2 separate regions of the Homo sapiens genome follow, and region 2 is linked to region 1. Evidence: fine-mapped expression QTL. A gene starts in region 1. The other region holds a variant in brackets. All regions are shown on one strand. Distances are between the middles of the regions.

Region 1 (2,903 bases):
AATAATTAGCATAATTTCCCCATCAATAATTATTATTTTCTGAGGGTCAAGTCCAGGAAGACAGCTGAGGCCTCTCAAAGCATATTGCTTGCTACTGTCTCAGGCGCTATCCTGAGCTGGCAGAGAGTGATGGTATATTTATTAAAAGACGTATTGTCCTCTACTAAGAGCACTGGCTGGGAAATCAGGACACCTGAGCTCTTGAGAAACAATAAAGTACAGTGGTCGGGCATGTGAACTGTGAAGCCAGATTGCTTGAGTTCAGATCCCAGCTCTGCCACTTATTAGCTGGGTGATCTTGGACAAGTTAGTTAACTTCTCTGTGCCTTGGTTTTTCCCTCTGTAAAATGTGGATTATAATCCCATCTTGTTATGAAGATTAGCTGAGTTAATATGGCTAAGATCCATGTGCCTGGCACATTTTAATCACTCAACAAATGTCAGTTGCTTTTGCTGCTGTTGTTACTATTATTATTACTATTGTTCTTGCCCCGGCTGGGCTCCTAACTTGCTGGGTGACCTTTAGTAAGTTACTTGCTCTCTCTGTGCCCCCAGGCTCTTTCTCCTATGACTGCTGCACCAAAGGAGCTGGGACAGATGAAGTCCTAGGATGCCTAGAAGAGTTGTTCTTCACTGCTTCAGTCCCCATGACCACTCTATCCCCCGTGGCCCCAGCTGCCACTCACCGATGATGATACCGCAGGTGAGCAGGGCATAGAAGGAGGTGGTCTGCTTGAGCAGCAGGTAGGAGAGCAGCACGTTGAAGACGGTGGTGAGTGAGCGGCCCACATTGTAGAAGGCCACACCGACGTACTTGAGGCAGAGGTTATTGAAGGTGATCATGCCGATGAAGACCACCGACAGGGGCAGGACGCTGCGGGCCACCCTGAGGTCCAGGCGCAAGCTGGGGAAGTCCACGGCACCAGGGCAGCAGGCGGCCAGAGCGCTGAGGCCTTTGCACAGCAGCGTGGTCACCAGGCACTGGTAGAAGGTGACGAAGATGGGGGTGTCCAGCCGCAGGGAGGGGCTGTCCAGCAGGTACTTATTAAGGAACACCATGGAGATGGAGGTGACCCAGTAGAGGGAGACCACCAGCGCGATCTGCAATGCCCGCAGCAGAAAGGGCTTCTCCCCGTTGGCCTCTGCCTCTGCAGAGGGGTCTGAGGCCCCGGTCAGCGCCATGTGCAGGATCCTGGACCGCTTCAGAGGGGCCCTATTCATGGTAGCAGAGGAGCTGGGTCACCCCGCGGCCAGAACTCTGATTCCCTGGAGTCCAGGGCAGTGAGCTCACTTGTGCTCTCCGCAAGGAAGCCGCAGCCCTCCATTGTCACATGTGGGCTGGCCTAAAGGCCTCCCCATTGTCCTCATGGATTGAGAAGTTCTGCTTTGGGGTGAGCCCAGTTGTGCTGCTCCACAACCTACTCCCACCCCGAGGGGGCTCTGAGACAAGACACAGGGCAAGGGAGAGGAATAGGATAAGGCGGTGAGGCCAGGACAGAGAAGACCTGTGAGGGGAGAAGAGGCTGGGGCCTAACAGGGAGGGGTCGCAGAGAGAAGGGAGGGGAGAGGAATGGCAGGGCGGGGCAGGAGTAGGTACGCGGGGCGAAGGTGCAGGAAAAGGACGCGTGGCAGAGTGGGAAGAGGTGCCGAGAGGGCGTCATGGGCGGCTGTGGGAGGGAGGGGCGGGCAGGGGGAGGGAGGCGTACAGGGAGCTGCCGGAGGCCGGGCGCGGCTGGAGGGAGGGCTGCGGAAGGGTCAGAGGGGCTCGGGGCTTGGGGCTGAAGGACGCGGGAGGGGGCTGGGCCGGCGCCCACGTCTCGCTGCCTTCCCGGGCTCTGTCGCCGGCTCAGCCCAGGAGCCTCCGGACATCCGAGGCCGACTCCCCGGGAGGCGGGCCCTGGACTCACTTCCTGACACGCCCCCACGTGGCCTTAAAGGGCCCGCACGCCCCGCCTTGCCCTTAAAGCGACAGCCCCAGAGAGGCGGAGTTCGCCAGTCCCCAGCCCCGCCCCTGCGCTCCGCTGCCCGCTGCTGGCGGGGGACCTCGGCAGCCACAGGTTTTTCTGGGTGCTTGAGCCTCGCCCTGCTTCCTGGAAGGGCTCCATCAACCTCGCCTGCCCACCCTCAGCTCCGTCCGCCCCGGAGCCTCCGTCCCCCGACTTGGCTAGGCTTGGCTCGCAGGTCCACTTCCCGGAACCCCGACCCAGGACCCGGGCGGCGCTACATCAGCCTGGACCCCTCCACCTCCGGAGACTCGCGTTGCAGCCCCGCGTCCCTCTGCCAATCCGAGCTCACTCTTCCATAACAATGTTGTGGTCCCCTCCTTTCCCCCCATTTTCACCGCCCCCAGGCCCTCTCCCAAGCCCGAGACCCCCGGCAGCGCTCCCCGAGGCCGGAGGCCACGCCGCCTCTCTCGGACTTCAGTTTGTCCTCCCTGTGCTCCTGTCGAGGTCCTCTGGGCGGCCCGGATCCGAGATTCCAAAGGCTCAAGACAGCATCTCTTACCCCTTCCAGAAAATACTGTTTCCCCGGCCGGTCCAGCCGCATCAGCTCCCGCGTCCCTGCCTGTGTCCCCGGGCCGCGAAGGCGACCTGGCGCTCACCTCCTCCGGTGCACTGGGCGCCCGCCCCGCGACCCCGTGCTGCATCTGCAGCGCCGCACCCTGGGCCGCGCCCGCGGGATCGACTTCCTGCTTTCCGCCCCGGGCCCGGGCACCTTGCCAGCCTCGCCGGCCTGTTCGCGGCATGGGCCCCGGGGGTGCCGGCGGAGAGGCGGTGATCCGGACGGTCGTGGGAGGAGGCCCTCTCCTCTTTCCAAGGCTACTCCTGTCCCTGGTACCCCCGCCCGCCCGGGACCCGGCTTCAGTTACCGCAGCTGGCACGTCCCGGGACTTGGCTGTATCC
Region 2 (2,903 bases), 61 kb after region 1:
TGACAACTTGAGCACAGGGCTTGTGTCCCCAGCACTGACACATGGCCCTATTCTTCATTTACTCAAAGACTAAGTGAGTGAATTTTTTTTTTAAAATAAAGTTTGTCAAGTTCAGGATAATTTAAAAAACAACAAAACCCAACTTTTGAAGAGGTCAAACTGGGAAAGTTATGCTGCACTCACATCAAGGGGCACTTGTCTTTTACTGGCTGTTACAGGTGATAATGACACTTATTTATTTATTTATTCATTTTTTTATTTTTGAGGGTCCAGTGTGTTTGGGTGAGGTTCCAGGCCGGATGGGAACACGGTGGGGTTAGAGGCAGATATACCTGGGCTCCAAGGTTATCTCTGCCACTTACGAACTGTGGGTTTGAGGCAACTTACCCTGAACCTGTGTTTCCTTATCTCCACTGTGGGGATAGTAACAGAAAAAATACTTCGTAGTCTTGTTCAGGATGAGAAAAATGTCGGTGAAGTGCCTAGCCCATAGTAGGTGCTGGTTAAACAGGATCATTTTCTTAAGCTGCAGTATATTCAGTGACAGCAGCTCTTCCCTTGACCCCACTTCCTGAATTCCTGTCCTTATGGAACTTTCTGGGAAGCTCTGGCCTTTGTCTCTGACACCACTGGGCCCTGGGCTCTGTGTGGACACACTGCATATTAGCACAGTGGCTCATGGCACCTACACCATTTCAGAGACATCCGAATAATTCCATTTTGGGATTTGTGCTGAGATGGTTTCAGTGGCTTTGCTTGGTTTCTAAACAAAAGTTATTTAGGTGGGAACAGATTCAACTTGAGGTTTTCGTGATTTTCACACGACCTTTAAATACCCCTGATTTGCAGTTTCCTTCTTTCTCTAATGAAAAACTGGATCGTCTTGTTAAAAAGAAACTTAATGTGATGCTGTTGGCCTGCAAATCTCCTAGCCTCCCTCTCTCCGTTTCATTGGCTCCCACCCTCTCCTGTCTCCCTTGGCTGCTCCACCCACCCTCTACCCCGGCAGTCCTCAGCTGGCCTCCATCCACTGCTCCCTCCGTGGGAACGGCTCGCTCAGAATTCACCAAGGCCTTCCCGGTAGCCACATCCAGAGATTTTGTGCAACTTCCTTCTTCAGGCTGAATTTAACCCCTCTTCTTGAAATGTTCTCGTTCTCTGGCTTTGGGACACAAAAGAAGCCTACTTACTTGTTCCCTAAAGTTCAGTCCTTGCTTTTTTTTTTTTTTTTTTTTTTTTTTTTTACGTTATTGCTTTATTCTTTACGCCTTTAATGATCACCTCTATGTGGATTATTTTCTTAGCTCTCTTCCCATTTCAAGTGTCTTCCTGGAGTCTTACTCTTGAGTCCTGATGGACTACTGGCCATTTTCCCTGAGGCATCTTGAAGGTACCTCACCTCTAAGACAGATCCAACCATCTGTCCTGGCCCTCTGCCTTTACTCCCTCCCTTAATCCATGGCACTTGAAACCCTGGAGTCTTCTTCCCTTCATTACCACCCTCCCTTCAGCATTTTTTTTTTTTGAGACAGCGTCTCGCTTTGTTGCCCAGGCTGGAGTGCAGTGGCGCGATCTCAGCTCACTGCAAGCTCTGC[C/T]TCCCAGGTTCACGTCATTCTCCTGCCTCAGCCTCCCCAGTACTCAGCCTCCCCAGTAGCTGGGACTACAGGCGCCTGCCACCACGCCTGGCTAATTTTTGTATTTTTAGTAGAGACGGGGTTTCACCTTGTTAGCCAGGATGGTCTCGATCTCCTGACCTCGTGATCCACCCACCTTGGCCTCCCAAAGTGCTAGGATTACAGGCGTGAGCCACTGTGCCCGGCCTCCCTTCAGCTTTTACATCATGAACCAGTCCACATCCTCTGATCTAATCAGAGTGGCCTCCGCACTGTCCCCAAACATGCAGTCACTCCTGTGTTATGCCTGGAATATCTGGGAGGGCACACTTTCACAGTCACATTTTTCAAAAAGAGAGCCTTTGTGTTAACCCATGTATATATTTGCTCAGAGACCAAGGATCGTGCAAAACATCCTTTGTCCCATCAGTCTCCCAAAGCCGGGCCACAGACTGTGTGTATGGCCTCATCGCCGTGCAGAGGACTTGTCCTTCTTCTTGGGGTCAACTTGACCAAAGGTGTGTGCAGGGGGAGATGGTACTTCTAGGTTCACAGTTCAGCCCTCTCCTCAGAGTCTTGGCTCCACCCTGCAGAGGAGACGTTAGAGCCTTCAGAATTTAAATTCTCCAGATTCTTAGAGCATGTCTAAAACAAATCAACTATTCTCTTGCTCCTTGATGCATTATTATGCTAATAAAGTCGCTGTCTTTTTACTTAATCTTGCCAAGGAGACTTTCTCCTCAAGGATGGGGAGGGGAGGCACATTCCATCCCGCCATGCATCTCATACTCTTCCCCACCTGTATCTTGGTTTATGCTGTTCTGGTCATCTATTTGGGATGTATACTTCCCTCCCATCGCTGTAATAACAATCTACCTATTCTCCAAGGCAGGGAGATCTTAACCACTTTTGTGCCATGGGCACCATTTAATGGTCTGATAAAGCCTATTAGGCCTGTCTTCCAAAAAATGATTTGAAAGATATAAAATACACAGGATTATAAAAGAAACTGAAAACAGTTACTAAAGTATTCAAAAAACCAAATTTATGATATAAGAATACTTTCCTTTATTAACATAAAAAAACACAATTTCTTTTCTCTTTTCCTTCCTTCCTTCCCTCCTTCCTTCCTTTCCCTTCCTTCCTTCCTTCCTTCCTCCCTCCCTCCCTCTCTCTCTCTTTCTCTCTTTCTCTCTCTCTCTCTTCCTTCCTTCCTTCCTTCCTTCCTTCCTTCCTTCCTTCCTTCCTTCCTTCCTTCCTTTCTTCCTTTCCTCTTTTTTTTTTTTTTCA

Which allele goes with the higher level. Positions count from the first base shown, and alleles are read on the strand shown. Sizes are in standard deviations (SD) of each study's normalised expression.
For the expression in prefrontal cortex of the gene that starts at base 1,874 in region 1, T is the high allele of the variant in region 2 and C is the other (moderate effect, 0.49 SD a copy in ROSMAP).

Evidence for each region. PIP is the estimated chance that this variant, and not a neighbour inherited with it, causes the effect.
Region 2: its variant is the best candidate, but not a certain one, in a credible set for the expression of SLC35C1 in prefrontal cortex (ROSMAP, PIP 0.65).

Annotation. Positions count from the first base shown.
Region 1 is chr11:45,804,120-45,807,022 of GRCh38, reverse strand. It overlaps SLC35C1 (solute carrier family 35 member C1), which reads right to left and starts at 1,874. Exons shown (of 2, transcript NM_018389.5): 1 at 687-1,874. The coding sequence starts at 1,221. RefSeq lists silencers at 1,620-1,849, 2,580-2,749.
Region 2 is chr11:45,743,326-45,746,228 of GRCh38, reverse strand. No RefSeq gene overlaps it. Among named protein-coding and RNA genes, the nearest start is that of LINC02690, 6.8 kb to the left of the region's middle. RefSeq lists enhancers at 1,096-1,595, 1,596-2,097, 2,234-2,800. The variant C/T (reference allele first, on the strand shown) is at 1,596.